3 separate regions of the Homo sapiens genome follow, and all the other regions are linked to region 3. The links come from fine-mapping of genetic effects on gene expression. A gene starts in region 3. Each other region holds a variant in brackets. All regions are shown on one strand. Distances are from middle to middle.

The links. PIP is the estimated chance that this variant, and not a neighbour inherited with it, causes the effect. A credible set is the group of variants that fine-mapping cannot tell apart.
Region 1: its variant is the best candidate, but not a certain one, in a credible set for the expression of LINC02015 in fibroblasts (GTEx, PIP 0.77).
Region 2: its variant is the best candidate, but not a certain one, in a credible set for the expression of LINC02015 in cartilage (Steinberg 2020, PIP 0.67).

Annotation. Positions count from the first base shown.
Region 1 is chr3:177,801,286-177,811,457 of GRCh38, forward strand. No RefSeq gene overlaps it. Among named protein-coding and RNA genes, the nearest start is that of LINC02015, 10 kb to the right of the region's middle. The variant G/T (reference allele first, on the strand shown) is at 6,112.
Region 2 is chr3:177,452,615-177,462,786 of GRCh38, forward strand. The region is part of intron 1 of LINC00578 (long intergenic non-protein coding RNA 578); the gene reads left to right. Among named protein-coding and RNA genes, the nearest start is that of LINC00578, 16 kb to the left of the region's middle. RefSeq lists a silencer at 1-53 and an enhancer at 4,285-5,484. The variant C/G (reference allele first, on the strand shown) is at 4,218.
Region 3 is chr3:177,814,260-177,824,431 of GRCh38, forward strand. LINC02015 (long intergenic non-protein coding RNA 2015) reads left to right here and starts at 2,606. Exons shown (of 3, transcript NR_110826.1): 1 at 2,606-2,737.

The DNA.
Region 1 (10,172 bases), 13 kb before region 3:
AGAGGGAGGGGGACACAGGCTGAAAAACTACCTATCGGGTATTATGCTCACTACTTGGGTGATGGGGTCAGTCCTACCCTAAACCATAAACCTACATATGCACCCCTTGATTCTAAAATAAACATTGAAAAAGGAAAAAAAAAAAGGAGAAACTCACTCTCTTGTAATAGAATCAGATATAACTAAAGTGCAGAGTGGTCAGTGCTATAATAAAAGCATTTTTTAAATGCACTGAGGAGATAATCCAAAGAGTGATTAATTCTGCCCTGGGGAATGTGGGAGAGAAGAAGTCGAAAAGACAACAAAGCACTTTGGGAGGCCGAGGTGGGTGGATCACCTGAGGTCAGGAGTTCAAGACCAGCCTGGCCAACATGGCAAAACCCTGTCTCTACTAAAAATACAAAAATTAGCCAGGCATGGTGGCATGCGCCTGTAAAAGCAGCTACTCGAGACGCTGAGCCAGGAGAATCACTGGAACCCGGGAGGCGGAGGTTGCAGTGAGCTGAGACTGCACCATTGCACTCCAGCCTGGGCAAAAAGAGCAAAACTCCATCTCAAACAAAAACAAAAACAAACAACAACAACAAACATATAAAACCCCACCAAAATATCATGACATTTGAGCAGTGGGTCTTGAAATAATAATATGATGCATACCTGAGTCATTTCTTAGTCTAAATGGCGAGGCTCACAATTTTTTAAAGAAATTATTTGACTCTAATTATCCTTTTTAAACTTTCCTCCCATTAGTCTACCCTAGGATATCAGGATAAGTAATTTTGCACTCTCCTTGGTGTTCACATCTTTTAAGTGTTTATAGATTGTTTCATGCTTTATCATCAGTTTGCCAAGCCCACCTAGCTTAGTGCCTTTCAATTCTTCTCCTGTGCCAGCTGCCTTTCTTCCATTCATGAGTGCAGCCTGTTCCTGACTTTCCAGCCCACATGACGCTGCTATATATTCTGAAAACAGATGTTCAGAAGCAGCCCTTTTCTAAATCTGAATATAAACAATTCCCTGGTATAGGGTTTCCTACCTTTCCAATGATTCCTGCCAGCTTAGTTCATTTGCACATTTCATTCCCAATCTATTTATCCCAATGTAATAGCTTAGTCACCAAGCTCTCATGCTAAATAAGAGCTCTTCAAATGCCAACCTGAACTCCTCCCAGTATGACTTGCTATCCATTTATTTTCATTCGTTTACAGTCTATTCAACCTTTCAGCTGGCTTTTCAACCATGAGATAGTGTCCATATAGATGTCAATTTTTATTAAGCTCCTAACTAATTTTAAAGCACTACACAAGCTGTTTTTCTGAAGTTCTGTACATCTGCTACTCTGCACTCCCACGTTCCTTAATGGTGTAATTCTCTAGAAATGACCTATCAAATATGATGAAGCTCATTGCTCATGATCTGCATTTTATGCCTCTTCTTTTCTCTTCCTGACCCAGGTCTGTGTGCTGGGACCACAATGACACTTAGTGGTCAGGCTAGAATGTTGGCTGGCCTAACGAGCCACTGTTATTCTTCACCAACTGTGGTGACTCCGTGGGGCACAATATTTTTAAAACTCTCTTTCCCCAAGATTCTCACCAGCCTAGAAATTGGCTGGCGTTCTGCTATTATTCTCATCTGAGAGCAATCAGTGAAGAGGTTTCAAGTACAGAGGCACAGTACATCACCTCCTTGAACTGCCAGCTTTGATTTAAGGACGAGAAAATCTTGAGCAGCCAAACAGAGCTCAAGGTTGAATTGTTTTACAAAAGTCTGACAATTTTGCCCAAATGCATCAATTTCTTTGATAGCATCAAATGATATTAACATGGCACACTATTTAAATTACAACCCCCAATATTCCTGACCTCCTTTTTCTGCTTTTTCTATTTAGCATTAGTCCCATGTGATATACTTTATATTATACCTACGTTTTATTTTTCTGTCTTTGCCTCCCCCCCTTTAATGTAAGCTCCATGAGGGAAGGGATTTTCCTCATGACTGTTTTCCTTTATGTTCAGTACCCAAAAAGGTGCCTTGAACATAGGAATTTCACAGTAGGTGTTGGATGGCTGAATGTATGAAGGAATGATTTTATATACAGTGCACATCAGCTTAATAAATTATTCTTTTTCTCTACTAGGCTCAGTCCACTTTTTTCTGTTTCTACTGATATACTGCCTTTTCTCTTCCTCATCTCTAATATACATTTGAATACTTCCTCCATATTTGTTACCTCTTGGAAACTTTTCTTGAACCACCGCAGGGAGGTCTACTCCCCTTAGTTCTCAATTTATGTTTATGTTGTTCAGTTTTTGAGGACAGCAACTCTTTCACATGAGGCTACCTTCTTTTCCAAATGCCTTAATATGCTGGGTGGTAAATGCTGCCAGAATTGTTATTTCTGCCACATCAGCACATGTGTCACGGGAAGAAAAACACTGTTTGGTTTCCAGATTTGAAGAGCAAAATGTGTATTATGCAAAATGGCGCTTTGTCTTTAACGGGAGTAGTTCCAGTTTTAAATCCCAGCTGCCTTTACCATCTATTTGACCCTAAATAGTTGTTAAAACCTTCTGATCCCTAATGCCTTCATCTATAAGATGAAGTTAATAATATTAATACCTTCCTTGCAGGGTGAATGTGGGGCCTGGGGCTAATATGTATCAAACCCCAGGCTTGACAGATAAGACATTACCACTAACTGGCTATTATTAGTGTTGTTGTTGTTGTTATTGCTACTGTTACTATTACTGTATCATTCCTCCTTCCTCTGATTTACCACCTATACTGTGCAGGAATCTCCACTTCAGTAGAAAAAATACATTCAGCTATTTCAATTTGGGATTAAATTTTCCATCCATTCGTTTATTCAACAAGCATTTTTTGAGAGCCTAGCATGTGCCAAGTACAACACTGATTGCAAGGAATACAAAAATGAATACACATTAGTCCCTGCACCTTCATAGCTTTCAGTCTGTGGAATTTATTTACTTATTCAGCGGAATAGTTCAACAAATATTTAGCGAGCATTGATTGAGTCCCAGCTGCAGTTATGGGGACCAGGAATACATGAGTGAAAAAAGAAGATGGGGATTACTTTCTAGTGGAAGGAGATGGAAAATAAACATAAATACATAAATAAGTGAATTCTGTAGTATGCTACAATGTGATAAGGGCTAGTGACACCTAGTGAAGCAGAGGAAAACGGACCCGGGGTGTTAAGTTGGTGGAGGGGGGGTTCAGGGGCCAGGGGATTTGCAATTTTTAAGTAAGGTGGTAAAGGCAGACTTTCCTGGGAATGTGACATTTGAGCAAAGACTCAAGGAAATGAAGAAATGAGCCACATGGATATCTGGGGGAAGAACATTTCAGCAGAGGGAATATGAGCAGAGCAGGGAGCAGGGGGCTGTTGTAACAGAGGGCTGCTTTAAAATGCCGTGGCATGGGAATGCAGGGTGCAGGAAAGAGAGATGTAGAAGCGGGGATCTTGGTTGCGTTTTCCACTGACCAAGTCTTAGTCATTTTCTATTATTCCTATGACTGAACTGCCTAGGTTCCTCCCTTGGCTAGAAAGGCTAGATCTGGGAACAATGAATGGAGAATGCGTGATGTGTCTGCTGACTACACCTAATCATCCACTTCCAAGGCTTTTTTTTTTTTTTTCTCACCTCTATGACTCTAGGATCCTTTATTTCAGTGGTTTTTGTACGCGACAGAAGAATGTTGCCGCCAGAAGTCTGAATTAAGACCCCGCGGACATGGAAGATCCCCTTTTGACTTTCTGGTTGTAGTCCCATGAGTCAAATGACAAAAAAAAGAGGTGGTGGTATTGGGAAAGGTTTCTGTGGTTGCCTAGGACAATAGGCCTGATATTTCAGGGAACATCTTTGTATTGGGAGGCATAGATGAAATGTTAGAATTTCCGTGGAGGCCAGGAGCGGGGCGGTGGCTCATGCCTGTAATCCCAGCACTTTGGGAGGCCCAGGCAGGTGGATCACGAGGTCAGAAGTTCAAGACCAGCCTGGCCAAGATGGTGAAATCCTCTCTGTACTAAAAATACAAAAAATAGCCGAGTGTGGTGGCAGGCACCTGTAATCCCAGTTACTTTGGAGACTGAGGCAGGAGAATCGCTTGAACCTGGGAGGTGGAGGTTGTAGGGAGTTGAGATCACGCCACTGCACTCCAGCCTGGGCAACAAGAGCAAAACTCCGTCTAAAAAAAAAAAAAAAAAAAAAAGAATTTCCCTGGAATCCCTATGCAGACTTTCATATCAGTAGTAAAGTTTATCTAATGGGGAGATCAGACTTCCTTGTCACCAGCCATTCAGTCTTTCTTCTTCAAGGGCTCTGACGGTCCAGTCAAACCACTAGTTTCTCCTCATAAACGTGTGGCTTCTTACCCCAACCAACTCCCCTTTCACGCAAAGTAGACGCAGATGACCTTGAAGTTCTGTATACCATGAATCTTTCTCTTCTGTGGTGTTTACAGTCACAGCTGAGTACCACTACTCGCCAATTCAGATTATTGTGCAAAGTTCACCAACTTTTTCTTCTTGGATATCCTAGGCCACTTTGCTTAACATACTTGAAGTAGCTAGCTTCTCTGATTGAAAATCAGACCAGTTTATCTGTAAATTCAGTCAAGGTTTTCACTGAACAGTTATCCTCATGTTTACACTGATTATTTTCTCAGTTTTTAACCATTCATTTTTAAGCAGGAAGTAATCATAGTTGGGCCTTTTTACTTGACTCATTGGATTTGCCAGACATGGAGAAGTTTTACGTTCTTTGATTAAAACTTCAGTCACATATTTTCTTTATGTTTTTTGCTGTTCTCCAATATAAAAGTTAGACTCTTTAAAAATATTTAGGAATTTTGCAGTCTCCTTTCTTGAAGTATAACTTACTACAGTAAAATGCCCAAATCTTAACTTATAAGCTGATTGACTTCAAACATATCTACATCCTCTTGTAATTACTCCTAGATAAAGATTAAGATAATTTCCATCAACTTAGAAAGCTTCACCATGCCCCTTCCCAGGCAATATTCCACCTCAGAGGAAACCATTGTTCTGACTTCTATCTCCATAGATTAGTTTTGTTTATTCTTCAGCTAAATAATTACATAATACAGTATGTATTTTTTCTGCCTTCTTTTATTTAACACAGAATTTTTGAGGTTCATCTACATTGATGTATTAGTAATTTGCCCTTTCTAAATTGCTGAAAGTATTTCATTGTGTAGATATACATGGTATTTATCCATTCTCCGATTGATGAACTAGAGAACTGTCAGCAGCCCTTCACTCTGGTGAAGACTAGAAAAACTTTCAATTTTTTTTCTAGTTTATGGCTATAAAAAAGCTTCTATAAATATTCTTAACATAAATTTTCATTTTGTTTATTTTTAAGATAGACACATGCATGTATTTCTCTTAGTTGCATATCAAAGAGTGGAGTTGGTGAGCCATGGGGTGTGTTTAATTCTTCAGGAGACTGCCAAATAATCTTCCAAAGTGGTTGGATTGTTACATATTCCCAACAGCAACAGAAAAAAGTTCCAGGTGCTCCTGTTCTCACCAACACTTGGTATTCTCAGTGTTTTTTTTCTTAGCTTTAGCTATTAAAATGCCTAATTAGTGAGAAAAGTGTACATTTTGATGCCCTTAAGGAAATATGCCTGCTACTGAACTCAGATAAGGAGCTGAGCATGAAAGGACTCAAAGGGAAAAAAGAATTCTGTTTAGACAGAAAAAAAAGTTTCAAGTCTGCAGATTTTTTTTATCAACATCTGAAGAGGGATGCCATGCCGTGAATTTTCCTTCAGCCATGAATTGTGATAACATAAGAAAATGAAAACACAAGCGAAATCTATTCACAAAAAGGTAGAATCTGGTGTGAAGAACCTTAACTGGCAAAAAGGAAGATTTAATTTGCAGTTATTTGAACTGAGCGTTCTTTTTTTGATCCTTTGATTTTTGATCACTCTGTTCTCTCTACGTGGGTGCTATTGCAAACACGCTTGTCTTCAAACTCCTTGACATAGCTATGTGTCATTCTTATGGGAAAATTTCCCAACTCTAACTTGCGAGACTGGCCCTAAATGGAACAC[G/T]CTGTGCTATAAAAATGAAAGACACTTTATAAATGTATCTCTTCTAAGAGGTGTGTTATTTTGCATAAAATAGAGTTAACAAATGATCTGCTTTTAGAGTATGAGTTAACACTAAAATTTTAATATTTGTTCCAGTTTCATATTTTAAAATTATTTTCAACTTAGTCTTTTTGAGAATGTCATAGAAGAATACATTTATTTGAAGAATCAAGAAAAAATCCAGCCTACTCTACTTAAGAGTCAACGATTCTACTAGCACATTCCAAAAATGTCTTTCCTTTGAATCCTCATTGTATCTTATGGATTTATCACACATACTTAACTTTTTCTTTACAAACCTGTTTCTATCTGCTAGATAATGGCAATCTTGCTGGCAGTGATCATAGCCCATTCTCCACTCCCGGGGCCTGGTATGGGGTCTATAACATACTGAGTCCAGAATTGGTGGGTTCTTGGTCTCACTGACTTCAAGAATGAAGTCGCGAACCCTCGCGGTGAGTGTTACAGTTCTTAAAGGCGGTGTGTCTGGAGTTTATTCCTTCTGATGTTCGGATGTGTCCGGAGTTTGTTTCTTCTGGTGGGTTCATGGTCTCGCTGGCTCAGGAGTGAAGCTGCAGACCTTCGCGGTGAGTGTTACAGCTCTTAATGTGGCGCGTCTGGAGTTGTTCATTCCTCCCAGTGGGTTCGTGGTCTCGCTGGCTTCAGGAGTGAAGCTGCAGACCTTCATGGTGAGTGTTACAGCTTGTAAAGGCAGTGTGGACCCAACGACTGAGCAGTAGCAAGATTTATTGCAAAGAACGAATAACAAAGCTTCCACAGTCTGGAATGGGACAGGGCCCTAGGGTTGCCACTGCTGGCTCAGGCAGCCTGCTTTTATTCTCTTATCCGGCCTCACCCACATACTGCTGATTGGTCCATTTTACAGAGAGCCAATTGGTCTGTTTTACAGAGAGCTGATTGGTCCATTTTGACAGGGTGCTGATTGGTGTGTTTACAATCCATGAGCTAGACACAAAAGTTCTCCACCTCCCCACTAGATGAGCTAGATACAGAGTGCCGATTGGCGTATTTACAAACCCTAAGCTAGACAGAGTGCTGATTGGTGCATTTACAAACCTTGAGCTAGATACAGAGTGCCAATTGGTGCATTCACAATCCCTTAGCTAGACACAAAGATTCTCCAAGTCCCCACCAGATTAGCTAGACACAGAGCACTGATTGGTGCATTTACAAACCTTGAGCTAGACACAGAGTGCCAACTGGTGCATTCACAATCCCTTAGCTAGACATAAAGATTCTCCAAGTGCCCACCAGATTAGCTAGATAGAGTGCCAACTGGTGCATCCACAAACCCTGAGCTAGACACAGGGTGCTGATTGGTGTGACAAACCTTGAGCTAGGCAGAGTGCTGATTGGTGCACTCACAATCCCTTAGCTAGACACAAAGGTTCTCCAAGTCCCCACTAGACTCAGGAGCCCAGCTGGCCTCACCCAGTGGATCTTGCACCGGGGCTGCAGGTGGAGCTGCCTGCCAGCCATGCACCCGCACTCCTCAGCCCTTGGGCGGTCGATGGGACCCGGCACCGTGGAGCAGGGGGCGGTGCTCCTCTGGGCACGGGGGTGGGGGCGGGGGCGGGGGGAGGAGGGAGAGACTCAGGCATGGCAGGCTGCGGGTCCCTAGCCCTGCTTGTGGGGAGGCGGCTAAGGCCCGGTGAGAAATCGAGCACAGCAGCTGCTGGCCCAGGTGCTAAGCCCCTCACTGCCCGGGGCCAGCGGGATTGGCCGGCCACTCTGAGTGTGGGGCCCGCGGAGCCCATGCCCACCCGGAACTCGGCTGGCCCGCAAGTGCCCTGGGCAGCCTGGTTCCCACCCACGCCTCTCCCTCCACACCTCCCGGCAAGCTGAGGGAGCCGGCTCAGGCCTTGGCCAGTCCAGAAAGGGGCTCCCACAGTGCAGCGGCAGGCTGAAGGGCTCCTCAAGTGCGACCAGAGTGGGCGCCAAGGCCGAGGAGGTGCCCAGAGCGAGCGAGGGCTGCGAGGGCTGACAGCACGCTGTCACCTCTCAATACTAATTGATAATAAATGTTTCTGGAATGCTGAATTGCATGAAGGAAATGAGAGAAAATCACATAAGCTGCTTTCAAGTCCCGACCTCTGAGAACAATGCATATACCTTTGGACAGCTTATTAAAAGGAAAATTTCAGGATGTGTACAATGTTATTTTCTGTTTATTCCTGGACATGAACATAATATTTAATTAAACTCTGAGAGGTAATACTAATAATATTTGTGAGACTGTACACTAGCTATAGAATGACAAAAGTTACAGCTTTCATAATCTTTTCCTGTGGAATAACACATACTAACAGAAAATTGTTTGCTATTTTCCCTTTAGCAAGGCTAAGGTATTGTCCAGTGGTTTGGCCAGTGAAGTCAAAATATCCCCACCATTTACTTGGTGAAAACCACTGAATCAGTTTCTACGAGGTAGAGAGAAATAACCTCAGAAGCTAGCCTTATAGACTCAATTTATAAAGTCATGGTAAGTCTAAAACAAACAAACAAAAAACAAACAAACAAAAACCTCCCCACCAAATGTAAGAGAAATGAAGAAACAAGATTCCAGATTCAATTTATATAAGTTTTCTCTTCGAAAAAGTTATTTCTAAGAGCCCTGAAAATAAAAACCATTTTACCTAGTTATAGAGAAAATTATTTTTCCAGATTTTTTTGGCAGTGTTTTAGGTAGAAAAAAAGTTTTGTAATGAGATTCTCCTTCCATAATTATTCGTATCTGTGCATTTGGTAGGTACTGAACACACTCCACTGTATCTCAGAAGGGATCTACAGATAAAGATGACTCAGCACAAACAGTTCCAATCTGAAGCATTCAGAGAATCTCTTCTTTCCTTGTTCTCAGATGTTTTGAAATAAACATTGGCAGTGTTTATTTATGAAGGTTCGGGACTTTTTGAATGTGTCAGCAGCATGCCTTGACTCTAAACAGACTATGTTGCAATTTTTTTCCCTGATGATTCAAAACTATAAACTTAAAATTACCTAATTAAAAAGATACTGAACTACAATAAACTTGGACTACAACTTCAGTTATGTACCTTGTCTGAAATTAGATCATTTCAATAACCCCTCTTCATGCCAAAGACAGCGTTTCCTCTTAGTGCATAAACATCCTCTGAACTCTGACTGAGGGTTCTTTGTTGCTTGATCATTGTTGTTTTGAACGATATAATTTTAATTCTTTCCCTGTTTTGTTAAATTGAGGATTTTGGCTCAAATTTATTTTTCTTAATAGGCTATGAGTTACACGGAGAAGTAGAAAGAAAATAGCTCAAGAGAAGTGTCAACAAATACTGTTGGGGGGGTACTCAATTGTTTAAATAAGAATTTAAAGCTTAAGTTTATTGTGAATAATTCTCATTCTGGAGAGATGAAACGAAGAACCTATATATACTGCAGTCTAATGATAAATATTTAAAATCCAACGAGAAACACTCATCCGACATACATATTTCTAGCATTTTCCTGATGTTGGTAATGCATTAATAATGCTTCAATTGATTGGCATATATTTTGGTGGATAGGCCAAAAACAGGATGTCAATTGCTAGAAAGCAAGATGCCTTCTCTCCTCTATTTTCTCTTTTCTTTAGGTCCCATGAAACCTCAGCTTCCCTATTTGTTTAATGGAGATAATCATTCTTTCTTCATTTTTTCATAGTCAAATTGGCTGTAGAGTTCACCCAAAATGATGTCTATGGACATATTTAAAGATATCACAGGCCATAGAAATGTGTTAAACTTTTTTGTTAATGCTGGATAATATGGCCTGATCTCGTACTTTCTTCTTGTAGTAATTTTTACTTCCTCATTTTGCTCCTGTAAAGTATCTATGTTGAAGGGAGAATTGTGAGCTCACTCATCCATGAAGAAAAGAGGTGAGAGAGACTGAAACGGAGGCGAAGAGGAAGAAGATTATTATCCCTTATCTCTAACTTTTCTACAAGTATTTGCTTCTAGAGAGACATGAATAATAGTGAGAAA
Region 2 (10,172 bases), 360 kb before region 3:
TGGAAACATGTTCTCCTCACTCCTAGTTCTCAGACCTTCATTCCTGACTCAGAAGAGCCTGGTAAGCCTGGGGTGATGTCATTTTCAGTCCTGAGGTAATGCTATTATTCAAGACATATTATTAAGCAATTGGATAGAGAAAGGAGTTCCTTTGAATGAATATACTTTATGCAGAAATATGATTCCTCCACAATCAGAGGCCCACACCTAAACCCAGACATTAAGAACAACAAAAGAACATCACCACCATCACCCCCAAAAACTCAGACAAAAAATTTAAAATTCCTCAGAGCATCAATACTGTGCCACTTGAACTGTGTAGTCCACACAACTATCACTTATAAATATCTGGAGAGTCTAAAAGTTGAAACCATCTGGCATTGTGCAACCGACAGTGGACATGTTGGAGTCTGGGGGTAGTATAGTGTATGGGTGCCGGCAAGCAAGAGAACTGGTATAGAATCTGAATTTTAACACTTAGCATATGTTAACTTTGGGCAGGTTACTCAGCTTTTTCCAGTTTCAAGCTCCTCATCTGTAAAACCCTTCATCCCTTTTCTGAAGCCATAAGGGAGTTATAATTAGCACGCCTCCATTGGCTCTGTTTTCCTGCTATTAATCTTTCTTAACATTTATACCTTGTCTTCTCGTTAAGATGGCGGGAGCCTGTGGCTTTGTGCACTCAAAGTCTCTATCATGGTTCTTTTTTCCGAGATTCACAGCATGAAAGCAGTAGATGAGAGAGAATGGTTTTCAGGAGTTTTCAATTGGGTTTGAAACCTGTCAAACTGGTTAAAAATTGCATGTTATTTGTACAGCACCCACTTATTTTATCAGTTGATTAATGAGGTGCTAGAGTAATGTGTTGCTTGTCTCCAATGTCTTAGAATTTGGTATGTAGTACATTTGATGTATAACTGATATGTTATAGTTTTATTTATTTATTTATTTTCTTTTTTTGTGCGCAATAGATTTCTTGAATTTATTTTTCCTATTTAACCAAAATTTTCTCTCTCCCTTCCTTCCTTCCTTCCTTCCTTCCTTCCTTCCTTCCTTCCTTCCTTCCTCTCTTCCTCTCTCTCTCTCTTTCTCTTTCTCTCTCTCTTTCTTTCTTTCCTTCTTTCTTTTATTATTATGATACTTTAAGTTCTAGGGTACATGTGCACAGCGTGTATTTATTTATTTATTTTGAGACAGAGTCTTGCTCTGTTGCCCAGGCTGGAGTGTAGTAGTGTGATCTTGGCTCACTGCAACCTCTGCCTCCTGGGTTCAAGCGATTATCCTGTCTCAGCCTCCAGCCTCCTGGGTTCAAGTGATTCTCCTGCCTCAGCCTCCTGAGTAGCTGACATACAGGTGTGCGTCACCACGCCTGGCTAATTTTTGTATTTTTAGTAGAGATGAGTTTTCACCATGTTGGCTAGGCTGGTCTTGAACTCCTGGGCTCAAGTGATACACCCGCCTTGGTCTCCCAAAGTGCTGGGATTGCCTGGCCGATATGTTATAGTTTGTTTTTTTTTTTTTTGAGATGGAGTCTCACTCTGTCACCCAGGCTGGAGTGCAGTGGCACGATCTTGGCTTACTGCAACCTCCGCCTCCTGGGTTCAAGCAATTCTCCTGCCTCAGCCTCCAGAGTAGCTGGGACTATTGGCGTGCACCACCACGCCTGGCTAATTTTTGTATTTTTAGTAGAGACGGGGTTTCACCATATTGGCCAGGATGTTCTTGATCTCTTGACCTCGTGATTTGCCCGCCTTGGCCTCCCAAAGTGCTGGGATTACAGGCATGAGCCACTGCAGCTGGCAGTTACAGTTTTAAAAGGTTAAAAATTATATGTAGAAAGAGAAGCCATAATCCAGTGTTTCTGGAGGACAAAGTGTATCTTTTTTGAAATACCGATTGAGATCTACAAATCCAGATCAACCCCACTTACAGATGAGGAAACTGAGATTCAAAGAATGATTTGAAAAAAGACATTTGGTTGATCAACTGTGGGGGACATGTACACATGCTGCCCAGATAGCCTTTCAAGGAAGGACTTTGAGTTCAGCTGCGGGGAGCGGAGGCAGCCCCACTGCCAGCTGTCAGCATCTTCAGGCTCTGTCCCAGCAGGAGAGTTGCTGTGACTGAGGTATCGCCCTTCCTAAGGGAGCCAGCATCTGTGGACCAGATGAGCCATGGGTGAAAAGGCCTGGCCACGGGGCCCACTGTGGGACAGTTTGATGGAATAGAGTTTTGAGTTTGATGGGTAATACTTGTTCCAGTGCTCCCTAAATTCTACCGGATATTTTGTCCGGCTTGCACTGCAGCCATCTTCCTTCCTCTTTCTTCCCTTCATGGGTGTTGATTCTTAATGAACTTCCTGACCCTCAGCTCTGTCTCAGTGCCTGCCTCCAGGGAAACCCACCTATGTCATTAATTGATTGAAATTACACAGTATATTGGCATTTCAGGAAATTGAGATAATTATCTTTAAATTTAATTATCTTTAAATTAACACATTTTATAAATATGAATAAAAAGTCTTCATATCATCAAATATAAAGGGTTGAAAAAGGAATATTTCTTGCCATAAATATAAAATAATCATAAAATAGGCCAGGTGTGGTGGCTCACACCTATAATCCCAGTACTTTGGGAGGCTGAGGTGGGCGGATCAATTGAGGTCAGGAGTTTGAGACCAGCCTGACCAATGTGGTGAAGCACCATCTGGACTAAAAAAAAAAAACAAAAATTAGCCAGGTGTGGTGGCGTGTGCCTGTAATCCCAGCCACTCAGGAGGCTGAGGCAGGAGAATCACTTGAACCCAGGAGGCTGGAGGCTGAGGCAGGAGAATCGCTTGAACCCAGGAGGCAGAGGTTGCAGTGAGCCAAGATCACAACACTGCACTCAAGCCTGGGTGACAGAGTGAGACTCTGTCTCAAAAAAAAAAAAAAAAAATCATTAAATAAATTCAAATAATATTAAAAAAACTTAACATTCTAGCTGAATTTTTTTCTGCCTAATGTTCTAGACTTCTTTTTCTCTGCATAAAAAAGATCAGCAAGTGTTGGAGAAGTTAAGATATACTACCAACAACCAATTCTCTCATCTTGATGTAATCAGAGAATAGGAAGAGAATTAAAAGGGAATAACTATCTCACTATGTAATCCAGTGTTATTTAATACTAAATGAGAATTTCTCTAATTCATATCTGTGAACCAGAGTACGGGGGCCATAATGTGGCAGACACCAACTTAAGTAAGTGATCAATTGTGGATCCACCATCATTTATCAGATATAATTTCAGTCTATTTTTGTAAAACTCAAAATGGAAATATTTCTGATGTCTGTTTCTCAGCCCCAATTTTTCCACCAATCCTCCATTCTAATGTAAAACTGGCCTACATTTTCTCTTTGTTCTGTTTCTATGTTTAGAAAAGATTAGAAGATTCCTACAGATAAGCCTCCTCCCAGTTCAGGTGAATTTACCTCTTTCATTTAAGCAGAAATAAAAAATTCAGTTCTTTCTTTCCTTGATTCATTCACTGAAGAATATATCTTTTGATGTCTACAAAGCTGGCTTAGTACAGGATAAGTGCGGAGAGACAGGGATAGAATCTGAGAGGGTGTATTTGTGAATGCTACTGTCTGGCTATAACAACCCCAGGCATGCTTGGGGAAAAAGTTAGGGAATTAGAAATTTTGGACAAGAAAGGAAACTAAAGTGTAAAGATAAAAAGAAGAAAGTAAAAGAATTAGTAAAGGAATGAAGGAAGATTTTCTTTCATTGTATAGGCCCTATATATAGAATATCATTTTTTTTCCTGGATTCCAGTTTATTGGAAAATAGATGTATCACAGGTATGATAGCCTCTTATATACATGTTTGAAAGAGTGATTTGAAAAAACTAATTAGTATGTAAATGTTCATTGTAGTGAAGGAAATGAGTCTTCAAGTTCTCAGATCATACAAAGGAATCTCATAGATTTGGGTGCTCAAAGCTCTGTTCTGGATATGTCTCCAAAAGTTCTTTACTTTTAGCTATGTACTATTTTTTTTGGAGAAAAATTGCCACTGAGAACTTAACCGTGGAATCCCCAGATAGGATTAGGCCTTGTTTTGGCACTACCTATGAGGTATGCTACTTGTTTCTGGCACCTGGATCTTCTTTGAAATTGTCAATTGGGTCCAACTGGTTCAGAAACTTCTTCCAAGTAAGGGGGGTTGAAAGGGATC[C/G]TTAAATTTGTGATTTTACAAAACTTCACCTGCTAGCCAAGAGGGAACAACATGAATTGAATTTACCCTCTTGCTTGAAACAACTGAAAAGATGGATCCAATATATGAAAACAAAATAAAACAAGACAAAACAGTTTTCAAGACTTTAGACTTCAGTGTTCCCTGAGAGACGGGCAACAAATGAGATGACTGAGTTTTGTGATTATCCCAACTTACTCCCTGGAGAGAGTTTCCGGGCCATGAGAGGGAGAGGGAACCTAGGGAGAGCCTGGCAATTATCTTGAGTTGAGGAGGCCAAGGCAATGTAGGATACAGTAAATTCCTCTTCAAAGTTTAGCCTGTTAACTTCCCTTAAAATTCGAGAGGGAGAAAATTGTTAAGTACAATGAGTTCTGAGTCCCTCTCCAAAGAACCAATGTGGCAGTATGTTCAGCTTCCCTGTACTTCATTTTCCATTTTAAAGTTTGACTTCCTCATTCTTTACATCTCCTTGCCCCTAGTTTCAGTAAACAACTCCCTTTTAGCCTCTATCACCTGCTCTGTCCTCAGTCATCCTTAGTCACCTGCTCTGTCCTCAGTCATCCTTAGTCACCTGCTCTGTAACCATCCCTCCCACCAAAACTACTCACCCTGCCACTCTGGCTTGTACCCTCACTCTCTTTAAAATAGCCAGTCAGAATTAGCTTAGACTGCGTGGTCCAATACTAGCCAATAGGGGAAAGACACAGCAGTAGGGACTAGCTGCATTAGGAATAAGGCCTTCCTTCCCCTCCCTTGTCTGGTGTGCTCTTGCCATTGCTCCATCCATGAGACGTACCTTTCTATAGAAGCAAATTGCCTTGCTGAGAAAACTTTTGCCCGAGTGCTATTTTCATTTGGCAGCACAGAGCATTTACTTCCAAGAGCAGCTAGAATTTGCAGGTAGGTTGCTGTAAAGGAGAGAGTTGTACAGAGAGAGGACTCTGGAGACCTGCCAAGGGTCCTCCTTGAGTCTTCAGCTGAATACCAATCAGTGCATGCTTGTGAGAAAAATATCTTCAGGCAGGAGAAAGAACTAGCTGAAAGAAGCAGAAGAAATCATCTTCAAAGTTCTCACAGGGCTGATATTATTCCTGTTCCTGCTGGCCAGACTAGAAAACATCATAATTCATGGGGCTTTTGATAGAGTATTTGGAGGGATTTGCCTCAGTGGTGGTGTAAAATTAGTGCAGATTAAATGCATTAGAAATTGAAATATGTGGGTGCTATGGTTTGGATATAGTTTGTTTGTCCCCAATGAAACTCATGTTGAAATTTGATCCCCATGTGGTGGTGCTGGGAAGTGGCGCCCAGTGGGAAGTGTTTGGGTTATGGGGGTGGATTCCTTGGGAGTGGCTTGGTTCCATTCTCATGGTTGTAAGTGAGCTCTGGTTCTGACAAGACTGACTGGATTAGTTCTCATGGAAATGGATTAGTTTCCCATGAGAGTGTGTTGTTATAAAGCCAGGACACCCCTCTGGTTTTGTCTCTTTCCACATGTTGGCATCTCTTTTGACCTTCTCTGCCATGTTATTATGCAGCATAAAAGACCTTGCCAGAAGCCAGGGCCATGCCCTTCAACTCCTCAGCCTATAGAACTATGAGCTAAATAAACCTCTTTTATTTATAAACTACTCAATCTCAGGTATTCTGTTATAGCCACGCAAAACTAAGACTGTGAGTAAATGTAAAGACTTGTTTTTTTCTTATTTTGGTGTCTTTAACAGATGATCGAAATGGTTACAGCGAAATTAATAATCATGTATTGTGGGATTTATAATGTGTATTTGGTCAAATGCATGACAAAATAGGACAAAGGTTGGGAAGGAAGAAATGGAGGTAGATGTACCAGTGTCAGGTCCTTCTACTTTATGTGAAGTGAGTAGTATCACTTGAAGTCAGAATTAATTCACTGGTACAGTATGAAAGTTCAAAAAGTGTACAAGTAACAGAGAAGCTGTCACAGGCATCAAATGATATCTGAGCTGGTCCGAATGTGTAAAGTGGATTTTAAAATGTCACTACGAAGGAAGAAGGGCGTTCAGGGTGAGGGAATAACGTGAAAGAAAATTAGTGAAAGAAGGAGAATAAAGAGCCTATGTTGTTTATTGTGAACACTCCTGCTTAGTTGGAATATGGGAATGTTCCAATGCATAGTGGGCAGTAAGGCTAACAAAGTCAGTAGCAACCAAACCATGGAAGGCCTTCTCTAAGTTTGTACTTTCTTTTGTAAGTAAGCAGTGGATGTGGACAGCTTGCGAGTGGTGGGAAGGCATGGTCAGAACTACACTTTAGCATTTGTGCTAATCTGTCAGTAATGTATAAAATGAATTAGAGTAGACAAAGACTTAAAGTAGGAAAGTTAGGAGGTTGTGGTAAAAGTCCAAATGAGTATAATAGGCTTTAACTAGGACAGTGGGAGAGAAGATGGAAAGAAAGGGAAAGATATCAATGAAGAGCAGAGAGAATTGATGGGTTTGAGTAAAGGGCATGAGAGAAGAGAGAGGTAAAGATGTCTGCCTGTCTGATCTAGACTGGGAAGATAATGGTACCTTGAACAGAAACAGGGAAACACAGGTGAACACACAGATTTTGGCTTTGGACTTCTCGGCTTGGGGTATCCTGGATTCGTCTGGGTGGAGAGGATTGGCAGACAGCTGAGAATGCAGACTAGGAGCTGGGAAAAGAGATTGTGATGAGAGAGGGATTTAGGAATCACATGTACTATGTGAGTGTTGAAGCTGTGGAATTAGATGAGATCATCCAGGGAGACAGTAGACAGCAGTGAGAGAGGAGAGGGCAGGGAAAGGAACATTGGGTCAAGCCTTCATTTAGCAGGCAGGAAGAAAAATACCAGAAGAGGAGGAGTATATGGAGGGTTTTTTTGTTTGTTTTTGTATGACACCTTGGTGAGATTTTTCTCTGTCTCTCTGGGAGGAAATGGAAAAAATCCTTGGAGAAATAATTTCTTTAAATGGTTGTGGACGCCCCCCTCCCTTATGCATGTATATATTTGCCAAAAAGAGCATAATTTTACAGGATGCAAATGCCAAAAGTGGAAAGAAGACTTGTGTAGAAGAAAAAACAGCACTGAATAACTTTTTATAAATGCAAGAAACAAGAAGAATAAAGCAGACCACTACAACGGTAAAAGAAACTATTATTGTTATTTTAATGAAAAGAACCAATTGGCAAGTCTAATGACATTTTTGAATGCAGGAACCACTTTTTCCAGTGATTTGCTTCCCTGTGCGAGGTCTCCGTTCACCCTTGCACCACTTCAGCAAAATGCTGAACACATAGTAGATGCCCCATTGTGTTTTAATTAGATGCCACATACTCAGGCAGGATTCGCCAGTCGTGGTCCTTGAATGTAGAGATTTCAGAGGTGGGAGGAGGGGAAGGAAGAAGGTAGTTTTGTTTACGTTTGCAGCAGAGGCGACTGAGAAGAGGGAAACACTTTTATTTCCCTTGTGGACTGGCCGTTCACTTTGCTGTAGCAGCTGCTAATGGAAAATAATAAAACCCATTTTCATCAGGCAGTATCTGGAACACTTACAGGTCAATTGAGTGCTCAAAACAGATTGTTACAGAACACATTATTAGTTCGTCATCAGCATCCACTCTGGTCAGGGGATTTTTACCATTGGAAATTGAATTTATAGGTCATGGTTTGTTATGATTCCTGAAAATCATCAAATTTTTGTAATCTAGTGGAAGCATATAGCCAATTATTATAAATGAACATACATCTTTTCATTTGTTAAAATCACAAAGGTAGCAAATTAAGCTGTGGAAGAATTCTACAGCAGCTGCAAAAATATGACTTCACTAATTCTAAACCTATGTTATGCTTATTAATTGTTCCAAACTGAAAAATTTGGTCCCAGTTTCATAATAAATCCCATCCTATAATACAATGCCAGGAGGTAATGCCAACACTATTTTTGTAAAGCACCGAAACCCAAGCATGAGATGAAATTCAAGGGTGTTTTTCTGTTTGCTATCATTCTCGTATATGAATGTGCTGTTTTAAAATGATCCTTTCCAAATGCAGAGTTAAATGAAGTTAGCTGGACTTTTTTTTTCGAGACGGAGGTTTGCTCTTGTTGCCCAGGCTGGAGTGCAATGATGCAATCTCAGCTCACTGCAACCTCCGACTCCCAGGTTCAAGCAATTCTCCTGCCTCAGCCCAGCTATTTGGGATTACAGGTGCCCTCCACCATGTCCAGCTAATTTTTTGTATTTTTAGTAGAGATGGGGTTTCACCATGTTGGCCAGGCTGGTCTCAAACTCTTGACCTCAGGTGATCCACCTTCCTCAGCCTCCCAAAGTGCTGGGATTACAGGCGTGAGACACCGTGCCCAGCTAGCTGGACTTTTAAAACACAATACCCATGGTGGGGATTGAATGGTCTGGTGGAAAGAACCCTGCCCTGGGCGTAGGGTGCTAATTTTGTCATTTGCTAACTGTGGGACCTCGGGCAAGCTATAGCACTGCCTGGGCCTCAGTTTCCTCCTCTGCAACATGAGGAATTTGGATTAGATGTTTTCTTAGAACACTTTCCTGTATGTTTACAAAATATTCGTTCTTGTTTCTTTCGAATTACATAAATATATGTTTATGGTGGAGAACTCCCAAAATAAAAATAAGCAAAAAAGAGAAAGTGAAACTCATGTATAATGCTACAACCCAGAGATACACACTATTAACATTATGATGTCTGTTCTTCCAGTTCACTCGTGTGTATACCTATGTACATTTAAGTATACACATACCATTCTATATATACGTCATTTTGCAACCTAATTCTTTTCACTTAAAATTGGACCATTGGACCACTCTATATATACGTCATTTTGCAACCTAATTTTTTTCACTTAAAAATAGTGCAAGTATTATTCTCTAATGTGATTTTTTTTTCAAATAGAATCCCATTGTATGAATAGGTCATTAATTTCTCTAATTCCCTATGAATGGATTACTTGGTATTTTTCAGTCTCTTGCAATTTTTCACAATGTTTGAATAAAAACTAATATGGCTAAATCTCTAAACATTTCCAAATTCTTGTCTTAGGGCAAATTGCCAGAAACAGAATTGCTGGGTTACAAGGTATGCGTGCTTCTTAAAGATTTAATGTCTATTGCTAAATTCACATAAAATTTAAATTATGTGTTACGCTTTTTTGTCTCTGGAGATAATTAATCACATTCAGAGTCAGGAATCCTGAGTGTGATACTCCCTTATAATAAGATATGGCTGGGTGCATTTATACACATACACTTTTATCCGTGAACTGTTTTGATATTGTGCTGTTTTGTGATAACTCAGAAGAATTGCAGTACACATTTATGTGGCTATCTTTCTGCTTTCCTCCCAGGGAATGTTGTTAGAGAAAGAAAACAAAATCGCTACATGTTTCTGAGTTTGCAGAGAATTTTAAACCGATTCTCTAAGACTCTTTCTAGCTTTTATAATTTAAGTTGGTGTTTGTTTTATCTCAACACACTTATTGAGTTTCTACTACATGATTAGTAATGAGGCCTGTGGCATGAAGAAGCATGATGTTTGGGAAGAAGAGTTATGCAGCAATGGTAAGCGTACATTGTCAGAGGCAAGCTGTATAGCGTCGGCAATCATGCTCCAAGGATGTCTGGCTGACCTATAGAATAAGGAGATGGGGAATTCAATGAGGTCTGGGAAGATACTGTGTTAGCTGGAACTCTTTGATTAGCACCTAGAGAAAACCACCTCAAATTAACTTAGCAAATAGGGTTACATTTATTGACTCATATAATCAGGCCCTAGAGAGGCCGGGGTTGGAGCAGGGCATGACTGAAGCAGGAGCTTTCTTCCTTTTTTTTTTTGTCTTCTGTTTTCTTCATTCTCTCGGAATTTTCTAAGCTGGTGGCTGGAATTAAGGCTCTTAGCTGCTT
Region 3 (10,172 bases):
AAAGTAAACATAAGAAAGCTGGCCTGGCTATATTAATATCAGACAAAGTGGATTGTCAGACCAAGATCATTACCAGAGGTAAAGAGGATACTTTCAGAATAATAAAAGGCCCAATTTATCAGTAAGGCATAAAACTCTTAAATGTGTAGGCATCAAATAAAAGAACTTCATAATTCCTGAAGTAAAAATCTGGCATAACTTTAGGAAAATACATATAAATCTAGAATTTCAGTTAGATGTTCTAGAAATCTCTCAGTAATTTTGTCTGCTCATTGACAGAATAAGCAGACAAAAAATTGAGGAAGACTATATATACAGAATATCTGAACATCACCAACTGCCTGAACCTAATCACTATTGACAGAACACTGTACCTGATAATTGCAGAGTGCACATTCCTTCCAGTACTCATGGACTATTCACCTAGATCATATTCCGGACCTTAATAGGAATCTCAATCAATTTGAAAAGACTAAAATCTTACAGAGTATGTTCCCTGACCGCAGTATAACTGAATTAGGAATCAATAACAAAATGATCTCAAGGAAACTTTCATATATTTGGAAATTAACAACACACTTCCAAATAACCCATAGATCAAAGAAGTACTTATAAGAGAAGTCAGAAAATATTTTGAACTAAATGATAATAAAAGCACAAAATATCAATATTTGTGAGATGTAGCTAAAACCATTCTTAGAAGAAAATTTGTAGAAGAAAACACTAACAAAGGAAGAAAAATAGTCACTTTCTGGTGCTCAATAAATTATTAGTTTTTAATCATTATTAATAGTATCATATACATAGCAAACTTAGTTTAGACAAATTTACAAAACGTGTGTGTCAGGGTAATGTTACCTATGGCATTCGTTATCAACAATTACCTCTTAAATTTGGCAAGGAATTTCATTAACATAGATTCCATTTCCTAGTGAAAGAGAAGAGCAAAGCATCTGCAGCTTAAAGACCTGGTTCCATCTTCTTCTTCTGCCATTTACTACTGTTCTGACTTTCTCTCTCTTGGTGGCAACTTTCTCAACTGTAGTGGAAAAAATGATATCTGCCTAATCTATGTCACAAAGTCACTCTAGAAAATAGAATGCCATATGAAAACGGACTTAGTGCCAAAAACAGTTAAGGCAATTATTCTTACTCATGAAGGAAGCTAGAGAGTGTTCCTGCTTCTTTTATATATTGCTTGTTTCACTGACGCTATCATTCTCTCTGATTTTTATATGTGGCCTTGAACTCAACAAAGGTTTATATTAAAGATCTTCTATGTAAATAATTGCAAAATTAGACCAGAAGAGAAACTAATGGGCAACTATGGCGTTAGAAGCTTGAACCACTTTCACAGCCTGCAACACCTGTTGAGTCACGTTCATGCTCCTAGGTGTAACATTCAGGGTCTCCATCACCTGGTTTCTCTCTGTTCTCCGGCCTCATTTTAACCTACTTAGCTCTAAAACTTTTAGACTGTTTCATGCCTTTGAATATTTAATCATGCAGTACCCACTGCCTTGAATGTTTTGCAAACTTTTTTTTTTTTAACTTGAAAAACCTGCTATGATTCCCTCTAGTTCTAGTTCCAGGCATCATCTTCCCCAGGAAGCTTTTCCCTAATCTCCTTAGGAGTTAAGGGCCCCTTCCTTCTACCCCCACAGAATCCTGCACAAAATACTGTCTTATAACCCCTGATATTGTGTTGTATTTTCTGTGTAGGAGTCTGTCTCATCACCCAGACTCTTGAGTTACACAAGGGAAGGACATGTTTTATTCATTTTTGTAGATTTAGTACAAAAGAGTACATTATAATAGGGTGCCTAGTGCATATTAAGAAATCAATAAATATCCATTACTTTCTTTAAAAAAAAATGAATTGCTTACACTTATAAATCTATTGAAAGTATCATGGCAAGAAGCAAAGCTCTTAAAAACCATAAAGAAATTATGAATTTTTCAGGGTTTTTGGAATGTGGTTGCCACTTAACATTCAAACTATTAATAAAATACTAATGTGGGTATAAACTGAAAACTCAGGTGTGTTTTTCTTTAAATAAATTTGGTGCAAGGAAATCTGTGATTATGTTGTTAAAATTGAGAATTAGAAAGCGGTTCTTCATTTAATGAAGAAGACTTTCTTTATACAAAATAAGCCATAAGATTAAATGGTGAACTGCTTGTGGACATTAAATTGACTAAAAAAGAGGTTTAAATTCCCATACAAGGAATACGTGATATGCACTAACTTATGTATATCTATATCTTAATAGAATGTGTTGGGCACGTCTACAAGATTTTCCTTAAAATGTAGAAGAAGCCTAGAGTATAATATTTAAGAAAGATTACATATTATTCCAGTTAAAACTTTCAAATTAGGATTGATTGCCAAGACTACTTCAACTCATGTGGGGAAATTGGAGGAGTGTTTTGACGGGGGAAAAGACAAAACAGAAAATGCCAGAGCCCAAAATAAGTTCCCCAGAGAAGCTGGGAGTCTTTGCCTTGATTGGATACAGACTGGGAACTTTCTCATTGCTTTGGAATTTGGGCTAACGTCCAAAACTGAGGGTAACCTGTGACAATTGCATTGCACATTCTGAAGAAAGGTACTTAGACATGTTCCCCACAGGATGTGTTAAGGTGTTGGCCAATCATCAAATATTGTCACTCCAAAGAACACATTTAACAGCCGGGAAGAAAATTGTAGGAAAAGAGAGCACTTTGGCACGGAAGGGTAAGCTGCTATGTGACTTCGTCTTGATCCAAGAGAGGAAATTGAGAGAAAACCCTCTGGAGCAAAGGTGGTGAGGACAGAGAGGCTCACTAGTGGGGAATACTGCCATCTTACAGAGTTCGAGAAATTTCCTCAGAGAGTTTGAAGGGTGCCCTCTAGAGCAGGACTTTGCAAACTTTCTGTGATAAAGGACCAACCTGTTTCAATTTCCAGTCCATCATGGAGTGACAGGTTTATAGATTTACTAGAACTGAATTTTTAGAAAAATGAAATGGAAACAATGTTCAGAGGTTACATACTCTGTATTGTAACATCAAATTGCTATAAAAATTTCTGAACAGTACTCTTAATTCCTGCACTTATTTTGTCATGAACTGGTAACAGACTGTTAAGAATCAACATGAGTGCTGAGACCTCAGAATAAGTACCTCTATCCTACATCAGAACTTCACCCAGAGATCTGGTTAAAATGACAATTCTGAGCACTACTGCCAGTCCAAGCTCTCTGCTACTAAGAGGCTCCTGGGCGATGCCAGTGCTCTGGTCGGGGGCATTCTTTGTGTCCAAGGCTCTAGAGAAGTGCAGGCCGATAGAAATATGATGTGAGCCACACATGTAATTTATTTTTTAGTAGCCTATTTAAAAAACAGGGAAAGGAAATGGGTGATTAATTTTACTAATACATTTTATTTAAGCCAATATATCCAAAATATTATCACGTGGTTGATATAAAAATTAGTGATGAGACATCTTGCTCTGTGTGTGCGTGTGTGTGTGTGTGTGTGTGTGTTTTAATACTAAAGCTTTGAGATCTCAATTTGGACTGGCACATTTCAAGTGTTCAATGGACACATGTGGTTAATGGCTTCAGTGTTTAGCCAGGCAGTGCTTGAATGTGGGCAGCACAGGGCCTGGTGCCTGACTCTGCAGGAGAAATCACAGGTATGAGGTGGCTGAAGATGCGCAGCATGACAGAGTGAGGCCAAAAGGCAGCAGTGCTTGAAGTTTGAGAACATGATGGGGGAGGATGTGTTCATTTTCCTGCAGGACAAGTAGCACTGTGCAAGTTAGTGCAAGTTATTTGAAGGGCCTCCCACCATTTCACAGCAAGAGGGGTGCATGCTGGAATGAAGGAATCCCAAGCACCTTCTGGTACAGGAGTCAAGGTTCTTACAAAAGATTAACGAGAGAGTGTTTTGAATGCATCAGGAAATGTTAAATGTATGAGTCCCTGAAAGGGTCTCCAAAGAATTAACAGAGGTACTTCATGAAAAAGACTTCTTGGAACATCTGTCCTACACAGGGCATTTGACAACAAAGAAAGACACAAATGCACTTGAGCTGGGGAGGAAAAACATTGATTTCAAGAATAAATTGAAGTTTTGGTATCTGATTGGGTTAGAGTTTTTTGATTCCTGAAAATAAGTTCTATAGTACTTGAAAGTAAACAGAAAGTCGTGGATCTGCCCAAGAGGTCGTTGAGGGGAGAAGAAAACTCTGACGGTAGTTTTGAGAAAGGTTGTGGAGAGAGACTGAATTTTTTTTTGTCCAATTTGATTTATTAAATCGACCATCATCTGTGTGAGCTCGTGTTGCAAAAATGACAACACAGATCATTTAAATGCTTTGTCGTTCACATCTCTACTCGGCAGCCTGACGCTGACAACACTGCCAGGCACATGAAGCAATCCCTCCAAGATACATTTCAGATATTAATGTTTTGGTATTGTTAAATCATATTATTTTTATTTCTATAAATTTATCTTGTTCCCCATGTTAATGGCAGAAAGTTTCAAGTTAAAATCAAGGGTAAACACATTGGCTTAGGACTCTGTCTTCTTCTGAAAGGCCTAAGCCAGGAAGGTGGATACAATTGAAGGAAGCCAAGAGAAATTGGTTAGCCTGCTACTGGCTGCAAAGAATAGAATCCCAGAGGCCAAGTATCTAAAATGACAATAGTAACTTCTCCCATAGCTAAGACTCACGTAGGGTGAATCTCATGGCTGGTTGATACTGTGACTCAATGACATTTAGGTTTTTACACAAAATATTTCTTCACTCTGCTATCTTTTGAGCTAGTTTCCTCTTTAGAATGGTAGCAAGAAGGCTATGCCAGATCTAAGCAGTATACTTATGGGCAATAATACCCAGGAGAAGAAAGAGTCACTTCTCAGGCTTCTCTTTCTCTCTCTCACTCTTTTTTTTTTTTTTTTTTTTTGAGAAGGAATCTCTCTCTGTCGCCCAGGCTGGAGTGCAGTGGTGCAATCTCAGCTCACTGCAACCTCCACCCACTGGGTTCAAGCAATTCTCCTGCCTCAGCCTCCCAAGTAGCTGGGATTACAGGAACATGCCGCCACGCCTGGCTAATTTTTTGTATTTTAGTAGAGACGGGGTTTCACCATATTGGCCAGCCTGGTCTTGAACTCCTGACCTCAAGTGATCCTCCCGCCTTGGCCTTCCAAAGTGCTGGGATTACAGGCATGAGCCACTGCACCTGGCCGCTTCTCTCTTTTTCTCAAATTTTTCTGACAGCCTCTCCCCCTGTCTCATTGTCCACAGTTAGATCACATGTCCATTCCTGAATTAATTACTGCAAGGGAAATAGAGACCAACGAGTAAATCTATATTCCAATGAGACTACCCCTGGAGTTGAGGTTCATGACTATGAGAAGGAAAGATGGATATGTGGACAAAATTAGATTCTATTAAAAAAAGAAAGAAGAGGCAATGAATGTCAGGTAAGCACCAATACTATTCACCAAATATCCTATGTAGGTTTCTAATCCAAGTAAAAGCATGCTTCCAATGGATAGAGATCTACCACATACTCTATGACAAACGTCTAAGCCAAACCAGGTTGTCCATGTGAACACAAACCTATTACTGAAACTGCTTCCTGGATAATATCACATTAAATTAAAACTTGGATCATGAAAAGGCTTTTGCAAAGACACAGTATTTCAGTGGAGGGACTTCGTAAAACAAACAAACAAACAAACAAACAAAAACCACAAAGTTCTCCCAGATACTCAACTGAGTTAATCTTGCATTGGATGTCCACATTTAATGTGTCACATTGGAGTCTTAAAGTACCTTCTGCTAGTTGTGTCAGAATTTTGCTTCAGAGTAGGATATAAAAAGAAAAAATATCTTCTTATAAATGTGATTGTTTTTCTGCCTTTGTTATAAATGAAAAGTTATGAACGTTTCAAGATGTACTTTCTTTTTAAGCAGTTAACTGTCAGTTTACTGTAGCTGGGCCCTGAGACAGAGATAAAGTCTTTATAAAACCTAAAACAATTTTAGAAGATTATTCAAACTTGTGGGTTTTTACACATATTTTTCCAGCATTAATTTGTTTCTATTTTTCTTGGAGCCGTAATGTATGGTTCTTGCTTTTCCAGTACACTACCTGAGTATAACAGTATGGTTAGAAGTTTCATTCTAACAGATCTGTTATTCTACATGGTGATAGCAATGGTTAATGCCAGACTAGTCTCCATACAAATAGTACTTGAGGAAAATTTTCTCTTCTTTCATTGGTAGTTTATATTAATATTCTTCACCTTGAATGCCAAATTTAGAAAAAAAGAGAAACCTCAGAAGAAAGACACTGTTTTCTCCCTTTTCTTAGGATACATATTTTGCTCCATAGTTTTTCTTGGTCAAATGGTTTTCTTTTAAGTTCTCTTCTCCATCTTTCTTTCTTGTTTACTCCAGGAATGCAAACTTGATCTTGACTTTAAGGTCAAAGCATTTTCAGAATGTGCAGTCAGCAGAGAATTGAAAAAAAAAATCAATGTGAAACATATTAGAGAAGAATAAGGGGAAGAGTGATGCAGAAGTGCTGGGAAGTCATGCAGGGATTGGAAACCACAAAGATTCTACAGAAAGTAAGAACGTCCTGCACCGAGATGTTTATGATTCCTTTTGCTTTTACTTCCCTTTTCTTACATAGGGGTAGGTGAAAATTATGGTAATTTGAGGTCTGGACCACTTTCAAAGCATTTTCAGGGGATGAAAATGACTTTTGACCTCTAAAAATGAGACATGTTTCTTTTTTTTTTTTTCCTGAAACCCTTTTTTCTTTTCCTGTTTTGTTCATGGTAGGGGAGATGACTATATTCCATACCTGTTATGCACACAAACTTAGAAGGGTTTATTGCAGCTCCATGGCTGAAAATAGCAATGAAAATTGTGAGACCTTTTATGTCAGCATTGGAAATAAACTTAATTTTAAATGAGAACACCTTTGATTTTATAAAGAGACTTATCCAGTGTAAAAGCTGGAAAGTTAAATAGAATCATAGTGGAAATGTTGATTCTAAAATTCTAGTATCTAGCCACAGACCTTGAAAAGAAGAAAGAAAGCTAGAAAGATGAAAGAAAGAAAGAAGAGGCCGGGCGTGGTGGCTCACGCCTGTAATCCCAGCACTTTGGGAGGCCGAGGCGGGTGGATCACGAGGTCAGGAGATTGAGACCATCCTGGCTAATATGGTGAAACCCCGCCTCTACTAAAAAATACAAAAACAAAAACAAAAACAAAAACAAAAAAAACAATTAGCCAGGCGTGGTGGTGGGCGCCTGTAGTCCCAGCTACTCGGGAGGCTGAGGCAGGAGAATGGCGTGAACCTGGAAGGCGGAGCTTGCAGTGAGCTGAGATCGCACCACTGCACTCCAGCCTGGGCAACAGAGCGAGACTCTGTCTCAGAAAAAGAAAAAAAGAAAGAAGAAAAGATCAATTGTCCTTTATGACAAGGATTATCATCTCTTTCCTTATTTATCATTGGACTCGAGAACAAATTAGATATAGAAAAAAATCCCATTACTTTGTGAAGCTTAATATTTACTGTAACTTACTGATCTAGAGAATGATCAGAGAAAATTTTAACTTTTATATATGTATACATATTCTGTATGTATATGTAAATGTGAAAAGACAAACAGGTTCTTAATCATCTTTCCATATGGCTGATTTAAAGTAATTATAAAGCCAAAACATTACTGAGTTATCTGGAAAATATGAAATGTTCTCTCAAACATTAACTATATTAATATTAATATAATCAAAGATTAATATTAACTATATGGCAAATTTTCTAAAAATCTAACTAATCTAAACATTTGCACTGGGGATAGACAGAACTGTCTTATTACAGATTTCTAGACATATATATTATAGATGATTATGTTTAGAATAAAGCATTTGTTAGGTAACATTCTTTCACTGTTTGTTACTTTTGCACTGACCTCACATACTTAAATTTTATAACAGCACAACAAGAATGTGCTGAGAACAGAGCTTGGCATAAGCTCATTGATAACCGTGAGTGTGAATTACTGGCAGAAATAGATATTGATGATTTAGTCCGTATCACAGTGGAAAGGGAGGAAAATTGAAAAGCTTTTTTTTCACTCTTTAGAAACATTTGAAATCATTCCTTGGAAAAGAAAAATCTATATTAGGGGCTGAGTAGGGGAAGATACAGGTTGAGTCATTAATTTGATCAGTACAGTAAGTTCAAAGATTGTTTCCACTACAACATCTCATCTGAAATTTTACAGATTCCCTTAAAGGGGGCCAAAAAAAAAAAAAAAAAGATAGTGATTTCTAAGCTGAATCAAATATGTGCACTTTACTTCATGGAAAATCAGTAGGGAAACAAGAAAGATTCTCTCTGCTAACATCGATTTTCCTTATATTTATTTTTTCAGTCGGAACACTCTAGGCAAAAATTCACTTGGCTTCAACTAATTTGCAAATGCCATCATTCACTGCTGTTTTGCTACCCATTTCTCAAATCTCAATTAAATGTGATGACAGTTTACTTGCCAGAAACACACAGAAAGGTTCTTTTCCAACCAGAGGTCTTCACTCATTTCCTGCTTGTGGACTTGGCAAGTGGGGTCAAAACATCCATTACTGAGGCTGAATCTTAATTTAGAAGGTTATCACCAGAGTCAGCAAAATAATTATAAAAATACTTTCCAAATGCAAACTGCAATAGACATGCACAGTAACAGCTGAAAACAATATATACATCATAAAGCCTGTTTACAATGGAATTTTAAAAGGGTGAATGTTTGGTTTGTACTTGTTGAAAGCTTGTATAACTCACTCCTAGGATGGACCCGAAACTGTCTTCTCTCTGCAACTATTCTTTACATTAAAACCAAAAATAACAACAAAAAATTACGCTACAAGTCTTGATGTTCTGGCTCAGACACCAAATTCCCTATAAAACTAAAAGTGAAGGGTGAGGTGAGACAAAATTTTGGCTTAAAGAAACACCAGTTGAGAAATGAAAGAAAGTACTGCTCACTTTTCCCTTATTTCTTCTATGTAAATAAGTTTCCTCATACAATTTATATAGTATTGCTTTAAATATATGGGATCTTTAGAAATCATAGAATGTTAAAAATATCAATATGTGTAAATGGGTACTCACTTCACATAATAGGTACTCAATAAATATTAGCTACAAAAGATAAAAACAAACTATAAGACATCTTTGTAGAGACAATTTGCTCAACCTTCTTCTCTCTCCCTTTTTTTTTTTCTTTTTGAGATAGAATTTCACTCTTGTTGCCCAGGCTGGAGTGCAATGGCATGATCTTGGCTCACTGCAACCTCCGCCTCCCAGGTTCAAGTGATTCTCCTGCCTCAGCCCCCGAGTAGTTGGGATTACAGGCATGCACCATCATGCCCGGCTAATTTTGTATTTTTAGTAGAGACAGGGTTTCTCCATGTTGGCGAGACTGGTCTCGAACTCCCAGCCTCAGGTGATTGGCCCCCCTCGGCCTCGCAAAGTGCTGGGATTACAGGTGCGAGTCCCTGCACCCGACCAACCCTCCTATTTATAGCTGAAGAACTGAGGGCTAAGTGGTTGAAAGACTTGCACAGCTCCTACACTGGCCTGCTGAAAGCCAGGGCTGCAACGCATTTCTTCTCACAGGTTCAGAGACTCCTGTACCTCATCACTGTTACAGAACCTCTCTGGGCCTCAGTTCATCATTTGATAACAAGAGTAACTCAACCTGCCCAGGGGTTATCCATCAAAGGCAATCGAGGTTGCAAGAATTCCTTTAAAATTTTAATTTACAGTATAGCACCTTGCAGGTAGCAGGCACTCCATAAATCTCTGAGGAATGGAATTTGCTGAAGAACAGTGGCAAAGGCTAGCTCTGATTCATTCCCCAAAGCTCATGGTGCTTGTCCAAACTGTTTAATCAGGCTTATGCAACCAACTCCTCTGACCTTTATTACGGGGTGGGTGCAATCACATGCGCTGTGGGAGGAGGGGCAGGTGGCCTCGGCCTGATCAGGGAGCACTAGAATGGGGACAACATTTTCTATTGTTCAGAAACTAAAAGGACTCTGCTTGACCCCAGTGTAAGCCTTTCACTGCAGTAGTTGGGAGCCAAGCTTTCTCTT